Homo sapiens: one gene and its partners. The protein of the gene in region 4 purifies or fractionates together with the protein of the main gene of each other region. This does not show direct contact. Each region holds a gene or a part of one and is shown on either strand. Other genes may lie near its edges. The genes, in order: NRGN, MMAB, BOLA3, NUDT6 and GLDC.

The links.
Region 1: the proteins of NUDT6 (region 4) and NRGN purify together in Homo sapiens (affinity purification with mass spectrometry; 2 studies listed by BioGRID and IntAct, with this or other methods). This does not show direct contact.
Region 2: the proteins of NUDT6 (region 4) and MMAB purify together in Homo sapiens (affinity purification with mass spectrometry; one large-scale study listed by BioGRID and IntAct). This does not show direct contact.
Region 3: the proteins of NUDT6 (region 4) and BOLA3 purify together in Homo sapiens (affinity purification with mass spectrometry; 3 studies listed by BioGRID and IntAct, with this or other methods). This does not show direct contact.
Region 5: the proteins of NUDT6 (region 4) and GLDC purify together in Homo sapiens (affinity purification with mass spectrometry, with the first as the bait; one large-scale study listed by BioGRID). This does not show direct contact.

Annotation. Positions count from the first base shown.
Region 1 is NC_000011.10:124,741,547-124,745,332, reverse strand, and holds part of NRGN (neurogranin), read right to left. Parts: intron 1,072-3,786; exon of another isoform or gene 438-1,071; intron 1-437.
Region 2 is NC_000012.12:109,566,557-109,571,458, forward strand, and holds part of MMAB (corrinoid adenosyltransferase MMAB precursor), read right to left. Parts: intron 2,308-4,902; coding exon 2,214-2,307; exon of another isoform or gene 1,747-2,213; coding exon of another isoform or gene 1,699-1,746; intron 1,021-1,698; exon of another isoform or gene 798-1,020; intron 612-797; exon of another isoform or gene 472-611; coding exon of another isoform or gene 455-471; intron 1-454. UniProt on the Homo sapiens protein: Converts cob(I)alamin to adenosylcobalamin (adenosylcob(III)alamin), a coenzyme for methylmalonyl-CoA mutase, therefore participates in the final step of the vitamin B12 conversion.
Region 3 is NC_000002.12:74,144,550-74,149,897, forward strand, and holds the start of BOLA3 (bolA-like protein 3), read right to left. Parts: upstream 3,364-5,348; 5' UTR 3,326-3,363; coding exon 3,272-3,325; intron 755-3,271; coding exon 640-754; intron 1-639. UniProt on the Homo sapiens protein: Acts as a mitochondrial iron-sulfur (Fe-S) cluster assembly factor that facilitates (Fe-S) cluster insertion into a subset of mitochondrial proteins. Probably acts together with NFU1.
Region 4 is NC_000004.12:122,912,231-122,917,132, forward strand, and holds part of NUDT6 (nucleoside diphosphate-linked moiety X motif 6), read right to left. Parts: intron 394-4,902; coding exon 338-393; intron 1-337. UniProt on the Homo sapiens protein: May contribute to the regulation of cell proliferation.
Region 5 is NC_000009.12:6,534,849-6,539,131, forward strand, and holds part of GLDC (glycine dehydrogenase (decarboxylating), mitochondrial precursor), read right to left. Parts: intron 1,389-4,283; coding exon 1,216-1,388; intron 1-1,215. UniProt on the Homo sapiens protein: The glycine cleavage system catalyzes the degradation of glycine.

The DNA of each region.
Region 1 (3,786 bases), on a different chromosome or scaffold from region 4:
GGCAGCGACAGGCGAAGAAGGTTCAGGGCCAGGTGGACAGTCATGTCTCAATTCAGGAAAGAGAAGTGCAGGCAGGATTGGGTGCGGGAGAGCCAGGCCCATCACCAGCACCGAGTTAGGGGTCTGCAGAGCTGATTGGAGGGTGGGTTTGGAGGGGCAAGGAAAACAGCAGCAGGCACTCCTGGAGTGGCCGCCTGTCCCCCTGCTCTCAGAGGGTACCTCCAGCTCAGAAGGACCCAGTCTGAGTCCAGGGTTTTCCGTGGAGAGGATGGAGAAGCCTCAGTCCGCCAGCCCTCTCCCCAGTAGAAATGCAGAAAGCTCACAGCTGGAATTAGGGAGAGGATGGGGATACTAGTCAGTGAGCCAGCCTCCCCCGACCTAAGGCTAGAGGCCCAGAGATTGTTTTCCCATTGACTCTTCATTTTCCACTGCCCAAGGATGAACTCAAACACAGGAGATAGGAGATGATTTGGATGAAGTGATAAAGAAAAGGCTTCACTCCAAGAAAAAAAAGAAAAAGAAAAGAAAATGAAAAGACCTGCAGGAGCAAGAAGCCCTTTCCAGGGTGTGCTTATGAGGAAGAAGGGAATTATGGTGATAGCTACCACTTAAGCACTTACCTTGTTCCAGGTGCAATAACGGTGTTTTACAGGCATTATTTTATTTAGTCCCCCAAAATAAAGCTATTACGTACCTTTTTATCATTACCCCTAATAAAACTAATGATTAGACTGTTTAAAAACCTACCTGGGTCATACGGACAGTTACCAGTGGACCCAAGATTCAAACCTTTGTATTTCAGAGTCCAGAATATATATTTTTACCCCTACTTTGTAGGATAAGAAAATGCAGCCCAGTCAACCAGCCAAGGTCTACCATTTGCTATAGGTGTGTGGCCTTCGGCAAGTTATCTAATCTTTTCCTATCTCAGCTCCTTCCTCTAAAATATCAGGATAATGGTATCCACCTCTATGGGTCGTGGGGAAGAATAAACAGCATGATATGCATAAAGTCTCTTGCACAACCTAGCTGCTCAATAAATGGTAGCTTTTATGCTTGTCTTAAAAATAACATTAAGTTAATGTGAAATAGTCATTTTTGTAGGCCAAAAGTGGTCATATAATAACAATTTCATATGGTTCAACCTAATAATAATCAGGCCCACCTCTATGCCCCAAACTAGGTTTCTGCTTCTCTGACAGCCTGCCCTGGCTGAAAGTAGAAGGCGTGAGGGGATTGATGGTATAGATTGCAGAGGAAAGGCTATGGAACGGAGAGGAATTCAGCCTCTGAGCCCTTTTGTTGCATTAACATTACTTGCAGTATTAGTGTGGGTCAGGATGGGGATGGTTACTATGAAGTTAGAAGGACATTTCTCCTTTGATCTGGCTCACTGGCTTCTAGGAATTTGCCTCCTTCTTTTTTTTTTTCTTTTCATGAAGTCTTCCACTGCTTTGACTATCTTTTTCTTCTAGGACACGAGATGACCAAGGTTTCACATAATAATGGTAATTCAGTTCTGCACATTAGCTCTCCCTGCCATCATCCATCCGGTTCATAGAAGTGGACAGGATATGAGGAAGGCTTCAGTGATCACTGTCCTAGCCAGATTCTGCCCCAGGACCACAAGCTTAAACTCCAGATGCCCAAGCCCCGGCTTATAAATGGTTCCCCTCGCCATGTTTCCCAAGGTTAGCCTCATTTCCTGGGCTTCACATTCTTCAATTCGTGCTCAAGATGCCCATAATCGATTTAAACACAGTTAAAAGGAGTTACATTTTGGTAGAAGAGTCAAAAAAACAGAAAGAAAAAAAGAGTTACAAAAAGGCAGGTATGGTTGTGGAAAGGCCAAACACAGGTCTAGGGTGCTCAGAAAAGACTCCTTTGGAATGTTTTATTCTTAGAGCTCAAGTCTTTCTTGGGATATCCTCAGGGAACAGTGAGGCTTCTTCTCAAGAGGGTGACAACCATAAAAAAGCATTCCTGACCTACCTTTCCTCCTTGGCCTCGCAGCTGTGGAGGAGTGGGAAGGTTGAGTGGAGGAAGGGATATCTGCCTCCAACCACGCTAGACCCGACCTGCTGTCACCGCCCGCCCCAGCTGGATCCAGAATGGAAACCTGGAATAGCAGGCAAAGCCACCCCCGACACTCCATGTTCCTCCCCAGAACCAGCTCCCTCTCCTACCAGCTGAATTTTCAGGACAGAGCTGCCAGGTGGCCAGTCCACAGGTGGAAGTGGAAGGAGATTGAAAGGACCTGGGAAGAGGTTCATTGGTCATGGTGCCTGGCTGGTGCTTTCCAAAGCCAAGGTTGCTGGTGTGTGCCTGACAGTTCCATAGGAAGTAGGGACTTCTGGGAGGGAGGAGGAGGTGGAAGGTGCCCTGGTCAGCAAAGTGGGGTCCAAGCCTTCTAGTCCCAACTGGGCACATCACTTCATCTCTGAGAGTCTCATTTTCTTCAGCCACAACTAATGAACAAAGTCTCCTTCAGCTCCCAAATCCGAATAGCTTTAAGGATATCCCCTGCTTGCTGCTTGTTATTATGTCAGGCCCTGTGCTAAGCGCTTTGCATATATTACCTCATTTAATCCCCATTTTGGAAGTCAGGAAACAGCCTCTGAGACATTTTGTAACTTAGCTAAGGTCACTCAGTTGACAAATAGTGAAGTGATGGGATTCAGTAGCCTCTGCTGCTAGCCACTGCCTCAGGGCAGGTAATTATTTCTATGAATTCAGCAGGGCCAAGCCAACTAGACTAAGCAAAAGAAATGAGGATCCAAAAAAATTCATGCGCTTTTTCATGCGCGGTGAATGCAGGAAAAGTCATATATATATATGGCTATGTAAATCAGCAACTGCAATATTTGAATCAGCATGAATAAAAAACCATTCCTCTGTCTCTTAAAAAAATAGGCAGATCTGTTTTCTTCTTCCTCATTTCTATCTGAGCCTCTGTACCAAGGAGAAACGGGAATAAGACAGGACTAGATTCTTCCCAAACACCAGGTGATGCGGTCAGTGAGGAGAGCTCCAGAATCAAAAGATGAAGAAGGACCTGCCTCTAGCCCCCAAGAGGTATGCTGTTCTTCCCACACATCTCAGCTCTCTCCCAGCACTGAGTCCAGCCCTCCACAGAAAGGGGAGGAAAATGCCCACCCCTAGCCCTGCCCTTCCCCAACCCTCCACACATCACTCCTTCTTCTTCCTGCCCTCCTGCACAGTCTGATAATGGTGCTCTCTCTTGCTCAGCCCTTTAGCCCTGCAGACCTAGGACAGGGCATGACTTGGGAAGGCTCCTGTGCACAGGGTGCACTGGAGGAGGTGCCCCAGGCCCTGGGCCATGGAGATAATTGTGTATCTGCTTCTCTTTTACCTTTTGGGTGGGTAGCCTCTCCTTTTTTAAGGGACACTGACTTCAACCATGTCTACTAATCCCTCAGTATGGCTCCCTGGGCACTCAAGAGCAACAGTTCCAGGCAGGGACCCCCACATCCTACTCTAATTACTACTGCAGACACAGAGGAGACCAATTCCATTCCTTCCCTGGCCTCTTGGATTCTTTGTTTACTCACCTCTTTCCAGTGACCACGTCTCCCACTTCCCCTTCCCCAGCAATACTCCCCTGTCATCCTCACCTCTCCCCTCCCCCCAGCTCATTTCCCAGAACCCACCATCCATTTATCTTCTCTACTTTATACAACACTGCTGGGAGGAAGGGCTCTTCCTCAGTGGAGCCCAGGAACCTCCATGAGGAGCCCATTTCTCCCTTCACAACCAAAAAATTGC
Region 2 (4,902 bases), on a different chromosome or scaffold from region 4:
GCCAGTGGCAGGCCCCACCCTGGGCACTTGCCCCAAGCCTGCTCCCACCCTCGTAGCTGCCCAGTGAGTGCTGCCTGCTCCCTGCACTCTGCAGCTCAGGAAGGTGGGGCTGAGGTTCTGCTCCCTGCACTCTGCAGCTCAGGAAGGCGGGGCTGAGGTTCTCTGTTGAGCAGCGCCTCGCACTGCAGATGCTTGGTCAATATCTGACCAAGGAAGAATCCACAACTGAGGTTTCTCCAACCTCCCGCTCCTCCTCAACTGAGAGACGATGGCTCGTGTTTTAGAGCTCATTAGAATAGCTGATGCGAGAACTGGCCTTTTCTCCCTTTGCCCACTTGGTCTTGTGTCTGCCCTCTTCTGGACCCCCTCCCACACACACCAAGGGGTTTGTTTGCCTTCTCTACCCGGCTGGCTGACTATCTGTACCTCCCATTATCTGTCCCGAAAATCTCACCTAGTCAGGCCCGCCATGGAGAAATGGTAGCCAGGAACAGGTAAGTGTTAAGAATAGTAATAATGAGGAGACTCGCTTGAACCCGGGAGGCAGAGGTTGCAGTGAGCCGAGATCACACCATTGCACTCCAGTCTGGGCAACAAGCGCGAAACTCCGTCTCGGAAAAAAAAAAAAAAGAAGAGTGATAATAGCTAACATTATTTTTACTTGTGCTAGGCACTGTCCTCAGGGTGAAACATGGAATCATCTCATTTAAGCCCCACAAGAACAGTGAGATGGGAATTATCATGATGACTACTTGACAGAACCGTAAACTGAGGCTCACAGAGGCCACGTGATTTACCTGACGTCCCAGAGACAATCAGCAGCGGTGCTGAAAATTTGCAGCTGGGTCTGTCTGGCTCCCATGCACCTATAACCCCAGGGCCCCGGGGTCAGATTTCAGGATCCAGCACCTGAGACTGTTGCTGCTCCCCCTGTCACCAGCCTGTAGGGCATGCTGGGCAGACTGTGCTCCTGCTTGCAAATATTTGCTGCCCCTCCTACCCCGCTGATGTCAGGCATGTGCACGTGACAGGCTCTGGCCGCTGAAATGTGAATAAATGGAAGGCATCATTCCCAAGAAAGGTTTGTCTTTTGGAGACAGAGTCGTACTCTGTCACCCAGACTGGAGTGCAGTGGTGCGATCATGGCTCACTGCAGCCTCAACCTCCCAGACTCAAGTGATCCTCCTGCCTCAGCTTTCTGAGTAGCTGGGACTACAGGTGTGCACCACCACGCCTGGCTAATTTTTTAACTTTTCTTTTTAGTAGAGATGAAGTCTTGCTATGTTGCTCAGGCTGGTCTCAAACTCCTGAGCTCAAGTGATTCTCCCACCTCGGCCTCCCAAAGCGCTGGGATTAGACATGTGAGCCGCTGCACCTAGTCATTTTTTTTTCAACTTTTATTTACCAACAAAGTTTAGTCTCCATAAAGACTGTCAAAAACTGCCAATGTTGACTATATTTCAAGTCATCATGGTGGGGTAGTGGGAAAAGTTTTCAATCAGCAATAATCACATCTTGGGTAAACCTCACTGGCGACAACACTGACACTGCACAATCCCCTGGCAGCGTCAGGAGCCAATGTGAGCTTCACCATGACCTCTTTTCCCTCTGCCACAATGACTGATAATTGCCCCAGGCAGCAGCTGTACTAGCAGCCTGTGTCCCAGAATGAAGGCCGCATGGAGCCAAAGAATATACCCTGTGATGGGCATGAAGTGGGAACAGCAAGTCCATCTTTGGTGTCATAAGTCAGGAGATTTTGGGGTTGTCTGTGATCACAGCATGACCTGGCCCATCCTGATCTGGTCCATCCTTGAGTCCACCTTCTAAACTTTGGCTTATGTAAAAAACAACAGTCACAAAAGGGATCACATTGGATGTACTGTGCATTATACTAACTCACCTCTTTCACTCAGTATACTAACCTCAGTGGCACACACAGGCTCACCTGAAAAGTGAGGGATGAGAGGGAGGCAGCTTCACATGGCATGGGCCAGAGGCCAGCGCAGGCACAGGCAGGGCCAGAAGGGAAAGGAGTCTGCAGCCCCACAGCCTTGTGGAGCTGACCAGCCTGTGCTTCAGGGCTGAGGAAAGTTCAATAAGGGCTGACAACCTCCGAGGCTGCTGCCCAGCATGCGTGAGAGCTTCACATTCATTACGTTTACTCATACTCGACTCAAACGCAACCTCAAGGCCAATCCTGTCCCCCTTACCCAATAGCTGAACTTAATTCATCTGTAGTTCCCACGGCTTCAAACACTTGGTCATCTTTGGGTCTCCTTTCTCCTGTGAAGGTACTAGAAAACCCTGTGGAAAAAAATGTTTAGCCACCCAAATTAAGATTCTGTTTTCCTGATATGCTGTTTTTTTTTTTTTAAACTTTCAAAGATTTTAAAGAACTTTCTCTTTTTTGAACAGTCACTCTGTCATCCAGGCTGGAGTACAGCGGCGTGATCTTGGCTCACTGCAGCCTCCCCCTCCCAGGTTCAAGTGATTCTCATGCCTCAGTCTCCCAAGTAGCTGGGATTACAAGTGTGTACCACCATGCCCGGCTAATTTTTGTATTTTTAGTAGAGACGGGTTTTCGCCCATGTTGGCCGAGCTAGTCTTGAACTCCTGGTCTCAAGTGATTCACCCGCCTCAGCCTCCCAAAGTGCTGAGATTACAGGCATGAGCCACCGTACCACCCCTTAAAGAACTTTCAACTTGAAATATAGCATATACACAGAAAAGTGCTCAAATCGTAAGTGTGCAAGTTGGTGAATTACTACTAACTGAATATACCTCCTTGATCAGCACCTAGCTTCATAAACAGAACATGAGCAACACCCTGAAAGCCCCCATGTAACCCCTTTTAGTTGCCACTCCCCAAGGGTTAGCCACTATGCTCACTTCTTTCCTGATGTGCTTTTCAACTTAAAAACCACATACTAACCATCCTGATAAAGAAATACAACACGTTCTATATTTTATATCATATATACATTACCATTATATTTCACATGAAGTCAAAGTCCTCTGTGCCTCTGCCTAGCTCACAGTCCCGCCTTTCTCCCCCAACCTCTGAGAAAGTGAAAACTGCCCCTGACAGTTTGGAGCTGGCTTTCGCTATCGGGCAGGCTTTGGGGTTGCCAGGTGCCGGCCTGGCACTCACAGGTAGACTGTGGTGTTCTGCTGAACACAAACCATTTCACAGAAAACCATCAGACAGGCCACTCTATGACTATGACGGTTCGAGACCAAGACAAGGCCACTGCGGAAGAACGTCTGAGCACAGACGACTGTGTCCAAACTCCAAAAGATGACCAAACCTCCCCCTTCCCTGGCTAATGTGAGTGACTGCTGCATCTTTATCCATTACAGCGTTAGCACCTCTTTGTCCCTTCTGTCTTCTAGAAACAAATTATTAACATACCCAATTACAGGCCAGGTGCAGTGGCTCACACTGTAATCCCAGGACTTTGGGAGGCCATGGTGGGCAGATCACTTGAGGCCAGGAGTTCGAGACTAGCCTGGCCAACATGGCAAATCCCCGTCTCTACTAAAAACAGAAAAAATTAGTTGGGCATGGTGATGCATGCCTGTAGTCCCAGCTATTCGCGAGGCTGAGGCATAAGAATTGCTTGAACCCAGGAGGTTGCAGTGAGCTGAGATCGTGCCACTGCACTCCAGCCTGGGCAACAGAACTAGACCCTGTCTCAAAAAACAAAAAAAGATACCCAGTGACAGAAACAGCCCTGCTTCCTAACAGGATTCAATCCAGAACAAAGCCCCACTTCCTTGTAACCACCCAACACAAGCCCAACCCTACAATAAGTCCTTTCCAACATCCTCTTCCTTCTTTTTAATTGTGGTAACAGATGATACATAACAGAAATTTTACCATTTTGACCCTTCTTAAGTTTACCATTCAGTGGCACTGAGTATGTCCCGTACATGCTTTTATACTTTTACTATACAAGTATATATCCAAAAAACAATACATACTAGTGGTCTGCATGCTTTTGTACTACAAAAAATGGTATACTGTCTTGGTGCGGTAGCTCATGCCTCCTGTAATCCCAGCATTTTGGGAGGCTGAGCTGGGAGGATACCTTGAGCCTAGCAGTTCAAGACCAGCCTGGGCAACACAGCAAGACCTCATCTCTACAAAAAAAATTAAAAAGTATTAGCCAGGCATGGCGATGTGTGCCTGTTGTCCCAGATACTCAGAAGGCTGAGGTGGGAGGATTGCTTGAGTCTGAAAGGTGGAGGCTGTTGTGAGCCATGACTGAGCCACTGCACTCCAGCCTGGGTGACAGAGTAAAACCCTGTATCAAAAAAAAAAAAAAAAAAGGATCATAGCAACGCATTCTTCTGCATCTTACTTTTTTCTATATAACATGTTCTAGCATTTTAAAAACTATTAAAGTAATATATACTCATTATAAAAAATAATAAAATAGAATAAAAGTATGTAAATAGTGAAAGTCCTTCTGTTTGTTCCCCTCTCACAACTTAATCTCTCTCCCAGAACAGTCCCAGGTGTAACCTTTCAGACTATTCTACACACACCTGAACACACATATATGTACATGCTTATCCAGACAGATTCAGGCTTTTGTCATTTAATATCTCTTGGGTGTTTTTCATTTCACATTACATTTTTGTAACATATTTTGAGATCTGTCAAATATCATACTTTTTTTTTCTGAGACTTTTTTTTTTTCTGAGATGGAGTCTTGCTCTGTCACCCAGGCTGGAGTGCAGTGGCATGATCTTGGCTCACTGCAACCTCTGCCTCCCGAGTTCAAGCAATTCTCCTGCCTCAGCCTCCCAAGTAGCTGCTGGGGTTACAGGCATGGACCACCATACTCAGCTAATTTTTGTATTTTTAGTAGAGATGGGGTTTCACCACATTGG
Region 3 (5,348 bases), on a different chromosome or scaffold from region 4:
CTTCCCCATCCTGTGGATGCAGAAGTTGCTTCTCCAGCCTGCTCCTAACACACTGCCAGCCTGAACTTCTAGGTGCCAGTGGCCACCTGAGAAGGACAGCGCTTGGCTGGGGCTGGTAACTGGGCTTAGGACAGAGTCTCCCCTGAGTCCCGGTTCTGGTTCCAGTTCCACTGTCTCTTCCCTATGAGGAGCTAGGCAATTCCTTTGGCCTCTCTGGGCTCATTTCCTCTTAGGGAAAGTAAAGCAGCTGAAGAAAATCTTTCTGGGGTCCACTCCAGCTCTGATATCCTAGGGTGTCAGAAGAATGGGGGAAAATTAGAGCAAAACCTATTCAAAGTCAAATGACAGACTGTGGACCTCAGCTCTAGGGTGACTGAGAGGGACCTTGTCTGAGCTGAGCCAGGCTGGCAACCTTGAGTCCTCCCAGCTGCGCCTTGTCCTCAGTTTCCCTCTGATATTTCTGAATCCTGACTGCCATCCCATGAGGTGGGGGCAGCCGAGCTCCACCTGTCCAGCAGCAACACATCTTGAGAAGCCACTCACCAGCAGCAAGCCCCCTCCTCCAAGCCCCTGACCCTCTGTCCTTCCAAAGGGCAAAATCTTATCCAAGCGCCGTAGGAAGAGTGAGAGAAACCTTACCTGAAATGTCAGTGACTTTTATAGCTGTAGCTCGTGGAAACTTTTCTTTGAGAATTTGGGTCACTCTGAGCTCCCCCTCAGTCTGAGTGGCAAACATCCGATGGTGAAGTGGAAGCTGCCACAGAACAGAGAGGAAGGTCAGGGCAGAGGAAGATGCTGTTGCCCCTGAGCTGGGCCACTGTGCAGGCCCGCCTGCCATTCCCCCTGCAAGGCAGGCCCCTGAGCCCTCGCCAGCACAGCCATGGGTTATGTCAGAGGGGCTCTGTGGTATCAGGAGTCCATGTAAGTGCCCCAAAACACAGAATAAACTTTTATTGGCGGGGACAGGATGATTGTTAATAACTCAATTTGACTCCAGAGACAAGAGGCCCCAAACCTAATTCAAGAGATGTTTGCTTCCATATAATGTTGTGACACTATTATGCCGATAGTTTTATAGGTAAGGAAACTGAGGCACACAGTAATGTGCCCAAGGTTGAATTCGGTAAGATACAGAGCCAGAAAAGCTGGATAGCCTGCCTCAGATCCATACCACTAGGCCATCCACTGCCCTGGATGGTGGGGCCAAATTCCACACTCCCTCGCCTTTAGGCCTGATTAACATGTCTCGCCCTCCCCAGTGGGATGTGACCTCACAGCCCACTGCTCAATTAGCCAGCTATCCTTCATCATGCACTCCTTCTCACTGGGAGCAAAGTCAGAATTCTATGAAAGAACCTGAAGAAGGAGTATCTGTAGGTTGTTTACCATTGGCAACAACACCCCTTCCCCAATGGCTACCATGGGGGAACCTGTGTTTGTGTTTCCTTTTTTTTTTTTTTTGAGACAGAGTTTTGCTCTGTTACCCAGGCTGGAGTGCAGTGGCACAATCTCAGCTCACTGCAACTTCCACCTCCCGGGTTCAAGCGATTCTCCTGCCCCAGCCTCCTGAGTAGCTGGGATTCCAGGCACCCACCACCACGCTCGGCAAATTTTTGTATTTTTAGTAGAGATGAGGTTTCACCATGTTGGCCAGGCTGGTCTCAAACCCCTGACCTCAGGTGATCCACCCACCTCAACCTCCCAAAATTCTAGGATTACAGGCATGAGCCACCACGCCCGGCCAGGGGAGCCCATGTTTCTGATGGAACACGTCTCAACAGTTAGTAGTGAAGGAGCAGAAAAGCAGGTCGGCAGTCACTTGGCTGGGCTGAGTGCATGCTGAAAAGGCAGACTGGGAATGGAGTGTGGCAGGCCTTGAATGCCAGGCTAAAGATTGTGGACTGTATGGGACAGGAGATGGGACTCCAGGTGATAGAACCCAGGCTCATGGGACCAAAGTAACCTGCAGGAAACAGTGCCTTCTGGAGCGAGTCAGGAGAGATGCCCAAGTAAGAGGCATTACAATGATGGAAGCACCGGGCACTGGTCCCTGACTAGACGTGGATGACAGGTTGGAGGACACTAGGGCCGTTCATGGGTGCTGGTGCTGAAGGTCCCACCCCTCTACCCCTCAGTCCTTCCTGATAGCTCAGAGCAGGGTCCTGTGTCACAGAATCTCAGAGCACCTCCTTTAAAATGAGCTGTGCACTGGCTCTCTCACCACTGGTCTTATAGGCCAGGAATGAGTCCGGCAGCATCCCAGAGCTGACCCCAGGGCAGGCCCTCAGAGGCACTTGGTGCTGGATGAATGAATGAGCAGGGGAAGAACTAGTCAATTAGGGACAGAAATGCAAGACAGGAGAAAGGTCCAGAGTGTGATTGTCTGCCTGCTGTGTGGAGGGACAGAAACTCGATGTTGAGAGGCTGGACAGGATTGCCAGGAGTGAGGGTGGGGTGGAGCTGCTTCTGGGGGCAGAATCTTGAGGGTAAAGGCAGAGAGTAACCAGATGGCAGACAGAATCGGCAGCTACTAAGGGGTGAGAGAGGTGAGCGTTGCAGAATCCTTGGGAGAAGCCTTTCATCTTAGCGGATCTGTGGGCAGCGGCCTTTAGTGGAACAATCAACTGACATCCCCAGATGATCACTGTCCACGCTGAAAGTCACCGCAGTGGAAGAACTTCTCTTCATGCACAGGGCAGGCAGGTTCAGAACCAGGGGAGAAGGAAAATGAAAGTTAAGAGAAAGAATGGTATGAGCTGAAGCAAAGGATGGTTCAGAAAGGGGGAGAGATTAGGAGAGCGCGTGGGAAGTGCCCCCTGCTTGGGTTCTGCTCCGGTAGTGTGGGATTTGGAGGAGGATCAAGGTCAGAGGCCCAGTCGACCTTCCCAAGGCCCCGGCCCCGCTGCAGTCCCTCGCACCCACGCCTTGACTCTGGGCTATGACTCCTGTCTTCTGCTCGGTAAACCAATCCTTTTTTTTTCCTGTGCCCGCAGTATTATGACTGTTCATGTGTCTGTCCGCCTGACCTCCAACCTCCACCCAGCTCGGGAGCTCCCCTAGAGCGCGCCAGAGCTTGAAATTTCGAATGCCGTTGTCGCTGAGTGAATGAATGAATGAAAGAATGAATGAGAGAAAGGAAGAGGAGCCCCCCATTGCCAGTGCCGCGCGCGCCCTCCGGGAGCCAGTCCTCAAGCCCCGACAGCCGCCGGCCCCGCGGTCCCTCCGCAGCTCCCGTCCCGGGGAGAGCAGCCCCGACCCTGCCCACGCTCACCCCGCGGATCCCGCGGAGGAGAGGCGCTGCCGCGGCCGGGCTCCATGCAGCCATGCCCGGCCGACGTGACCCGCCGCCCGAGGTCACTGTATGCCCGAAAGACGCGGAGCGGGGGACCGAGAGCCGCCGCCGTGGGAGAGGCCGCCCCCTGCCGCCCGGAGGCCGTCAGCCTCCCGGCCCCGCCCCGGAGGCCTCCGGTCGCCTGGCTCCGGCCCCACCCCGCCATCCCCTGGCCCTGGCTGACTCGCCACCCCCGACACTGCAGCGCCTGCCGACCTCGGGGCCCCGCCCTCTGCCTTCGCTCGCGCCGCTCTCCTTCAGTCTCCCCAGGGCCTGTTTCATGGATAGGGTCCCCTTGCCCGCGTGAAAGTCTCATTCCTCCTCAGCTCAGAAACACTCCAAGGTCTCGGCGCCCTATACTGGCCTTCCCTCATCCGAATACCCCTCGTGCTCCTGATGTACTTTTCCATTCCCACTCCCTACTCTGGCAGTCTAGCTTCTAAGCTGAGGAGTTTGGCCTTCGCTCCAGGTGCGGGGACTCGTGGAAGGATTTGATTCGCGCTTGAGAAAGATCGCTCCGCTCCTGTAAGGAAGAGAGCGTGTAGGGGCTGCAACCAGAGACACAGTCAGAAGCTCCGAGGCTACCGCGATGGTCCAGGTGAGAATGGAGGGGCCTAACTAAACCAGTGGCGGGAGGGATGGAAGAATGAACTGAGACACTTGGGAGGTGAATGGAATCGAGCGACTGCATGTGGAGGTGTGAGTGGGAAGGTATCTGAGATGACTCCAGTTTCTGGCTTGGACAATGACTTGGATGGAGGGTTAGGTGGGGGCTGAGCAGAGTCCACGAACAGTTCTTAATTTGCCTGAGTTTAAGGTGCCACAGGACACAGCCTAACAGAGGCCCAGGTTGGAGCCATGGACCATGGAGTCATGAGAATGGAAGGGAAGCTGACGCCATGTGGGATGGGGTAGAACTGTCCGCAAATTCGTCCCGCCTCTGGAGTCTTCAGACCAGTCAAGGCCGAAATTCAACCAAGCCTCTCCTCTCTCTAGCTGTTATTTGTTTGCAGCACGCGGTCTGGTGGCACCCTGCAGGATTTACCAGCTTTTTGCCAACATTCTGGCCTATGCAATCAATACGTCCCTTCAGCGTTGCACTTGGATGGATTGGACCTATAGTTGTTATATATGGATATTGTCTAATTTATTTATTACAGTATTAACTGACTCCTATGTTCTGGCCTTCAGAATTTCTCCTTTGGATCAATTACTAGCCTGTCTTACATTTTCTGCTTCATTCTTTTAAAATGTTTAGAGATGATTTGCTAAGTTTTCTTCATTGCTGTCAATGATGCAATTTAAACTGTCAAAAAAATTTTTTCTCAAGCAGGGTAGTAATGGTGAACCATTCCCTTGCTATTCAGACAGCATGGTTTAGATGAGGCGCACCTATCCCCAGCTTTAGGAATGGAAACAGGACCCAAGTCTGGCTAATCAGAGACTGGTTTAGGGTCGGCCCCATGGTCTGAGCCAGACCAATGAGAATTGGTAGAGGGACTTCCTTTTGCAACTTCTATTTTAGAATCGGGGGTATATATGCAGGCTTGTTACAGAGGTATATTGCATGGTGCTGAGGTTTGGAGTATGAACGAATCCGTCCTTCAGGTAATGAGCATAGTACCCAATAGGTAGTTTCAACCCTTGCCCCCTTCCTCCTTCCCCAGTCTTGTATTCCCCAGTGTCTGTTGTTCCCAGACATTGATCTTTTTCCTCTATGTTGCTAAGCTGGTAGAAAGGCTGGAGTTGCTGGCAACCATCTTTGCAACCATGCAGGGAGAACTACTTTGGAAATGAAGCAAGATAAAGAAGAAAACAGATAAAAGGAGACAAATGTTTGACTTTGTACAGCTGGAAACCAGCAATGCTGGAAATGAGCACTGAAGGCAGTTTAATGGGTTTGTCACTTGTAACCAAGTGACCCATGGCAAGCTCACAGATTTGTATTGGCAGAATTCCTCCTTTTCTTTATTTAAAATGGTACTTTTGGCCAGGCAAGGTGGTTCACACCTGTAAT
Region 4 (4,902 bases):
TGGCACAGAGTAGAAACTCATTGAATGCTGAATGAATGGAAGAATATCTTGGTAATATATTAAAGCAGACTTGTCTTCCCAATTAAATACAGTCATTTATAATTTTCCTTTAGCCATAAAGTAATAGATAGTAACACTGAGTGTTACCTGGAAATTTTCAAGGTCTGTATAAGTAGTTTGGTTTAAATAAATATCTAAGGTGATCCATAACTGCTTAGAAATGATTTTTAAAATACCTTTCTATAACCCCTTAGGCATATTAAAATTTCTATATTTTATTCTTCTCTAGAAAGAAATAAACATTTAGGAAGCAATTTATAAAACAGAAGCAGCTTACTTTATTTCGATCTTGTACAACCAGTATTTTTCTAGTACTTTCATCAAATACAGCTCCTATTAGGGGAAAAAGAAAAGATAATTGAGAAATATTAATTTCATTCACCTTAATCTCCTCCCACACTCTCTATCTGTGGTGATAAAAATTCTACCCATACTTGAAGCCTTGGTTCAAATACAGGTTGAGTATTCCTTATCTAAAATGTTTCAGAGCAGAAGTGTTAGATTTTTCTGGATTTTGGAATATTTTCATATACATAATGAGGTATCCTGGGGATAGGACCCAAGTTTAAACATGAAATTCATTTATGTTTCATATACACCTTATACTCATAGCCTGAAGGCAATTTTATACAATATTTTAAATAATATTGTGCATGAAAACAGTTTTGACTGCATTTTGACTGTGACTTGTCACATGAGGTCAGGTATGGAATTTTCCACTAGTGGCATCATGCCAGTGCTCAAATACTTTTGGATTTTGCAGCATTTTGGATCTTAGATTTGTAGATTGGGGATGGTCAAGCTGTACCACCACCTCATCCATGAAGACACTAAGTGCCTGTCTTAGTCCATTTGGGCTGCTATAACAAAATAACCACAGACTGGATAGTTTATAAACAACAAACTTATTTCTCACAGTTCTAGAAGCTAGGAAGTCCAAGATCAAGGTGCTGGCAGATTCAGTGTCTAATAAGGGCTCATTCTTTACAGACGATGCCTTCTAGCCCTGTCCTCACATAGTGAAAGGGGCAAACAAGCTCCTGTAGGCCTCTTTCATAAGGACACTAATCCCATTCATGGGAGCTCTGCCCTCATGATCTAGTCACCTCCCAAAGGCCCCACCTCTTAATACCATCACATTGGGGATCAGGTTTCAACATATGAATTTTAGGGGGAACAAACATTCAGACAACAGATGTGCTTACAATATTTATTGAATAAATGAATTGACTTCTCATTTTTATTCCTTGAATCACTATGCATACAACACAGGCTGTGCCCCCTGATGATCCAAATCTCAAATATCTCAATATTCATTTCAAGACCTTTCTGAAGCCAATTAAATTTTCTTATTATGTATATACACAACTTTATAATCTACTAATATACTGCTTTGGAAGAGTTCTTTGTTTTATATATGTTTTAAGTTCTAGTTCATTTTTTTTTGTTTATTCATTCATCATACACATTGCATATTCTCTCTTTCTTTTTAAAAATATTTCCCTTTGGGCAATCTTGGGTCAAAAATACAAATGACGTATTAGTGATTTTTATTATGATCTTTTAGATGTTATGATTTAAACATTACTTGTATTTAAATAATGTGGGATGACATTTTTTAAAAGATACTTTCTACATATTTGTCCATGCTTTCAGTATTAACTGAGTTCCTCTATATAATGTACATAGATCCTGTGCATATTAATTGAGCTCCTACTATGTGCCAGGCACTTTTCTAGGTGCTACAGATACAGTGGTGAACAACACAAATGAAACTCCCTATCCTTATGGGGTTCACATTCTGGTATGTGTGTGGGGAGGCGCCAAAACAAACAAAAAATAAATTATATAGAATATTAGAAGGTGATAAATGCTATGTAGAATATAGAGAAGGAATAAATATGTGTAACATGGGGAAAAGTAATTGAAATGCAATTGAAATGAAAACACCACACTTGACTATTTTAAAGCAGGAAGGAAAATCACCAAGTGAGATATAATTAACATTAATGTTGGCTTCTATTAGAAAATGTAAGCTATAATTTAACTGGACTTTACAAGAGGTAGACTGCCAAAGAAATGCCAAGGAAACTTACTCTTAAATTTTAATAATTTGTGGTTACTCAAATTGAACTTGTCCCTAATGAATTCACTGTAAACATGAGCACAGTATCAGAGACAAAACCAGCACCACTAAAGCACAATTTGAGCGACCTCTGCTGGTCACAACATAAAAATTATTATTATGATTAGGCACTGTGCTTCAACGTACATTAGCTCAGGTATAAGTCACAATAATCCTGTGAGTGATATGAGTGTCTGGCTTCATATAGCTCTAACTGGTAGAACTGGGACTGATAGCCAGTCTGTCTGGATTCTAGGCAGGCACACTCTTCTCACTGTGCAATGCTGCCCCTCAACAATACTGAAACTTCTCTCTCAGAAGACTCACATTTCCATCCCATTCATTAAAAAAATATTGAATATCTACTTTATGTCACTCGCTGTCTTTAGCTTGAGGATATCGTGGTGACCAAGACAGATAAAATATCTGCCTTTATGGAGTTTATATTATTGTGGGGGAGATTAAGTGATACAATATAATTAATTTACATACATGATATAATAGAGTTTCAGACTGTGATAAATGCCATAAAGAAACATAGAGCTGGATAAAGGGACAAGGAATGATGGCACTAGTGTGCAGGGAGAAGTCACTTCTAACAGAAGGGTCAGGGGCTTTTCTGAGAAGGAGACACTTGAGCAGAAACTTCGGCTATGAAGAACTAGATAAAGAAAGTTCTGGAGAAGCATGCTGCAGGAAGAGGAGCCAGTAGATGTCAAGGCTCTGAGTCAGACACAAGCTTGCTAAGTTTGAAAAGCAAAAGAAAGCAATGGCTCCAGCTATTCCAGCCACATCTGCCTTCGGTAGTTTATAACAAATGCCAATTATTTTTCTTTCCACCTAAAAACTCTGCACCCCAGCCTGGGCAACATGGCGAAACCCTATCTTTGCAAAAAATACAACAATTAGCCTAGCATGGTGGCGCATGCCTGTAGTCCCAGCTACTTGGGAGGCTAAGGCAGGAGGATCACTTGAGCTAAAGAGGTGGAGGTCGGAATGAGCCCAGATCATGACACTGCATTCCAGCCTGGGTGACAAAGTGAGACCCTGCCTCAAAAAAAAAAAAAAAAAAAAAAAAAAAAACAACTCTGCACCTTTCCAGAACAATTTCTTACATTACCTCGTCCACACCCCCAACAGTGGCTTCAAATCCTAGTTAGTGTTCAAGATTGGTCAAGTTCTGCATCTCTTATTCTTTGAACTGCTCTGACACTCTAAACTATAATGTACAATATACAATATAGTACTTAGTTATCAACAGGCCCTTCATAGGATACTCTTTTTGCATATATTACCAATTCTGTAGTAATAACTGGGAACTCTTAAGAGTCTGTGCCCGTGAATGATAATTATTTGCATAACTTTCCATTGAAGTGTGAGGCTGTCACTAAATTATTGAGTAGAATCTTTTGAAATAGAGCTGAACGGAGAGTTTCTGAATGTCTACTTGCTACAGGGAAGTAAGACAGGGACAGAGAAGACATCATTAGGCATTCTTGAACAACTCCTTGAAAAGCCTTGAAAAGCAAACTACCTTAAAAACTCTTGTAAATTATATAAAGGCAAATAAAATTATTAATTAAATAACTAATATGCTTCATTGCTTTCATTTATTAAGGTCATAAGGATCCCTTACTATTATAGTTTTTCTAGAAATCTAAGAATTTTGGTCCTTAAAGGGTAGTACTGAGACCACCACCAGCAGCAGCAGCAGCAGCAAAAACAGAAACAGCCAGGAAGATCACCTGAATTTTCAGGTCCCACCATAGACCTACTGAATCAGAAACTCTGGGGATAGGGCCCAGCAATCTGTTTTAAGATTCCAGGTGATTTTGATGCAATCTACAATGTGAGAATCTGTGTCTTACTCTGAGGGAAGTCTTCTCTCAACTTTCCTATGTCTCTGAAGCTAATCAGCCACTTCAAAATTCTACTCTACACTTAAATTACACGATTTTAAACAACTGTTTGGCACAATAATGTAAATATTATTAAGAAGTAATTGTTCAAATCATTGAAAAATTGGTTTGCTTTACCTGAAATTCAACATAAAAATGATCATTTACTTTACAAATTTACATAATTAGTGCCAACATGTTTTACTCTGCAATAAATTTATTCCCTGATCCCAATTCAGTGCTACTATTTGAGTAGTGAAGTTTAATTATATGTGTAAAATATATTCAAGCATATCCTTTGGAAAACTAAACACTAAAGTTGTTCTCTGTGCGTCTGTCTACTGATTGAGGCAAACTTCATCTATTTAAAAGCACTATGTAATAGTCCTATTTAAAAGCACTATGTAATAGATACTGTAGTCCCCCTTGTCCAGTTTTGCTTTCTGTGATTTCAGTTATACAAGGTCAACCATAGTCTCGAAGTGTTACATCACTACTCTTGTGCTTCGGGGCATTAATAAGGAAAATAAGGGTTATTTGAATCCAAGTACTGTGATACTGGGACAGCTGATCTGATAACAGGGAAGGCTACTAAGTAACTAATGGATAGGTAGCCTATGGATCATGGATACACTGGATATGGGGAAGATTCACGGCCTGGTGGGACAGAGCAGGATGGTGAGAGATTTCATCACATTACTCAGAACAGCATGCAATTTAAAACTTAAGAGTTTTTTTCTGGAATTTTCCATTTAGGTCATAATGCCTGTCATTCACCTCACTTCACCTCATCGTGCAGGTGAATACAAAAGGGTGAAT
Region 5 (4,283 bases), on a different chromosome or scaffold from region 4:
CTGCACCTCAACCGTCAATCTTCTGACAGGAGCCCAGGCAGAGAAAGCTGTTGTTTTCTTTCAATTTAGGGGGGTACAATGTGATTTATAATTGTGAAATATTTTAAATATCAGAACGTTATGGTAATAATCATCACATCCACCACCCAGTAAAGTCTAATGAGCATTCTGTCATATTTGCTTCATCTTTTAGAAAAAATTACCTACACGTTTGGTGCTGCCTGTATATCCCCATCCCAGTGCTAACCACTCTTCTGAATTCGGTGTTTACCATTCTCATCATGCTTTTATACTATTACTGCATATGTTAATAAACTGCATATAGCATAATTTGGCTCATTTTAAAATCTGATATCATCATATGAGTGGTATTATCCACTTGTATTATAACTCACTATTATGCTCTTTGAAATGTTTATTGCCATTTAAAAAAATAGCCTAAATCCTGAAAGAAGCAGGTGTCTTCAGAGAGAAAAGAGTAATAAACGGTGGTAAGCATAATCATCTTGTATGCCTCCATGACTCTGTGAACTCACCTCTAGAGAGGTGCCTGCCTTCTGCAAGTCACTGGTCCCTGCCCTCTCCTACAGGTAGGCAGTTTGGAAACCTGCCCCAGCTGCTGCAGTCATATCAGACTTGTTCTCTGGCTTACAGCCATGAAGACACAACCACAGCCTTCATGGTATTCTCCACTCCTGATCTTCCAGCTTAATATCTGGACTAACAAGAAACTTAGGACTCTGACCAGATGTAAAATTAACATGTTTTGGAAGCGGCAGAGTAATGCCCAACCAACTTTTCCCCAACATGGGGCATAAACATTGTAACATCCAGTCCAAATGTCAATCCAGTTTTCTCAGAGATAACTGCTCTAATATAAGAATGTGTGCTTGTACAGAGTTTGTGATGTGAATATGTAAATTTTATTTATGCCATAATCTCACTACAGTACATCAAACAGAGATGCAGAATGTTACAAATTCTCCAACTAGACAGCTGTGGACAGCTTCCACAACCACATCATCCTTGAGTAACTGCTATGCTGTTCAAGACGATGGAAACTTCAAAGTAACAACTGCATCTTCTCAGAAGAATTACCTTATTCTAGGGAAGAGTATCATCCTCAGTTGAGAGTTCGGGAGTTGCTGGTACACTGTCCAGACATCATTTTCTAGTTTAAGGAACATTTCAAGCAATGTTCCAGGGCCTACGCACCTTCAGCGGATTGACCCTGGGGTCGATGCGGCCCTCCTCAATGTCAGCAATTTCCTGCCGAATGCTGATCATGGCATCACAGAATCTGTCCAGCTCTGCCTTGTCCTCCGACTCAGTGGGCTCCACCATGAGGGTCCCTGCCACAGGCCAGGACATGGTAGGGGCGTGAAATCCTGCAAAGGGAGACAGGAGAACTTGCCTCACTGAAGGTCAGTGGCCTACCCAGTTTGGAAGAAAAGTTCGTATCCCTTCTTATATTTTATCCTAAGAAAATCATCAGATACATTTGCAAATGTATGTATGTGGGGACTCATCTCAGTGCTGTTCATAGAAGAAAAATTTAGGAAACAACCTAATATCCAACAATGGGGGATCAGATAAGCAAATTTTACAGAGCACCTATATGGTAAATAGACAACCATTCAAAAGTACATAAATGTGTTAAACTGGCTAAACATTCAAAAATATTAAGTGAAAAAAGCAAGCCACATAATGATATCCCATTTCTATATATAAATAAAAGGACAAAGTACTTATATGTGTATTTTATGAGGGAAGATGCCTTGAAGAAAACATAAAATGTTAACTCTAAATATGGCCGGAAAATGAGACTGGGATTTTTCTTTCACTTCGATTGTATTTTAGAGTCTTTCAGTAATTATCATGTATTATGTGCAATTAAGAGAAATAAAAATATTATAGCTTATCAAAAGTTAAATAATGAGATAACAAGTGTTAAAGACTCTGGAGCAAATCTTATTGTCCCCATTTTGTATGATAAGGAAACTGAAGTTTGGCCAGTATGTGGAAAGCCTTTGCCTTTACATTGAACACAGGCTCAGTGTGTTTCTGTTTCCAAAGGTTTTCACATGTAAGGTAGTGCAACAAGGTATGTAGTCAAGAGACAGATTTCCAGGACAAAAATCAAAAACAACATTTTCATTTCTTATAATTTTTCTGTAAAGCATTTTTTTTTTTTTTTTTGGAGACAGGGTCTTGCTGTATCGCTCAGGTTAGAGTGCACTGGCACACTCACGGCTCACTGCAGCCTCAACCTCCTGGGCTCAAGTGATCCTCCCACCTAAGCCTTCCAAGTAGCTGAGACTACAGGTGCACGCCACCATGCCCAGCTAATTTTGTTGTTGTTGCATAGACAGAGTTTCACCATGTTGTCCGGGCTACCGAGCTCAAGCGATCTGCCTGTCTCTGCCTCCCAATATGCAGAGATAACAGGCATGAGCCACCACACCAGGCCTATGAAACTTTTAAAAGCTGAAGAACAACTCCCAGGTTGATACACCTCTGAACTAATCTTGCCCCAATGTGCAGTGGTTCTCAAATTCTGGTGAGCATCATTATTACATGGAGTACTTTAAAGTAACATCTGCATGATTTCAAACATTCTCTACCAACATTTTATTTAAAAATGTTCAGGCCAAGTGCTGTGGCTCACACACCTATAATCCCAGCACTTTGGGAGGCCAAGGCCAGCGGATTGCTTAAGCCCAGGAGTTTGAGACCTGCCTGGGCAACATGGCAAAACCCCGTCTCTACAAAAAATACAAAAATTAGCTGGGTGTGGTGGTATGTGCCTGTAATCCCAGCTACTTAGAAAGCTGAGGTGGGAGGATCACTTGAATCCAGGAGGTGAGCCTGCAGTAAGTCAAGATCACAACACTGCACTCCAGCCTGGGTGACAGAGTAAGACCTTGTCTCTATTAAAAAAAAAACACTAACATCCAGATGAGTTGAAAGGACTGTAGGTGAGCACCCATATACCCACCACCTAGATTCTACAATGCTGTTGTTTGCTTTATCACATCTACTCATCCAGCCATCCGTCTTACTTTCTGACGCATTTCAAAGTACACTGCAGTCATTAGTACACTTCACTCTTAAACCCTTCAGCATATATATCATGACTAGAATTCAGTATCTGTTCACATATTTTTGTGATAAAACTTACAGTGAAATGCACAAATCCTAACTGTACCATTTAATGAGTTTTGGTAAATGCATACACCTTTGTCACTCAAACCAGACAGGGATTTTTTTTTTTTTTAAGAGAACAAGCTGATTACCTATCACGTCTGCCCTTAATTCCATGTGTGAGCAAATTCAGTCCAACATATCCTGCTGTAGTGGTCCCCATATTTTGAACCACCTGAGAAGTTCTTGCAAAAGAAATTCCTGCATCTGGGCCCTGATTCAGGAAGTCCAAGGTAGGGTCCAAAAATCTATGAGTCATAAAACATGCCAGGTGATTCTGATAATTGGTCTGATAATTAGCCTGGAACTGCTGGGTAAGGCAGTATGCCCCAAAATTGCCTGAAAAGACTCACACAGAAGCTGCGTGTTAAATATACAGATTATCAGCTCTCTTCCTTAAAAATTCACATTCAGCGGTTATGCTTTAAGACCTGGAAACTGTGTTGTCATGTTCATTGTTTTTCGACTTAGCTATTCATTTGGTCTCTCATTTATTAACACTATGTGTTGAGTGCCTACTATGTGCCAGGCACCTGGACAATTCTGGGCTTTTGGACAAGTGTGGAAACGGTTCTATCAATCTTCAAAACAACATTGAGGTCAGGAGACAACATGATTCAGAAACACTGGGTGGTGACTTCAGTTACCACCTCCCTGTGAGCCCCTCCTCTCTCTCCTTGCAAATGCTGTTGCAGTTAGATGTGTGAAGTAGGCAAGGCATCCACAAAGTGAGTGTGTTTTCCTGAGTCGGCCATTACCCAATCGCTAGCCGGGAGGCTGTCAGGGGAAAGGAGTTCTACTGTCAGGTTACAAGAGTTGCCAAGCAGAGATCTTGAGGATGGGATTGGTAATTTCATTAATGAAGCCTTTCTCTGGCTTTCCCATCTATTATCAGTGTAACTGCATAATAAGATCATTCATTCAAGAGAGGAGTGAGTCACACACATGGGATTCCCATTATGATGCAGTAGTGAAACTATTAAATTTAAAAGATTTTTTTCTTTTTTTCCAAAAACAAGTCATTAAAACTCAGAGAGGACTCCATATCCATTGAATGGCAATGTTCTCCCCAACTTAGC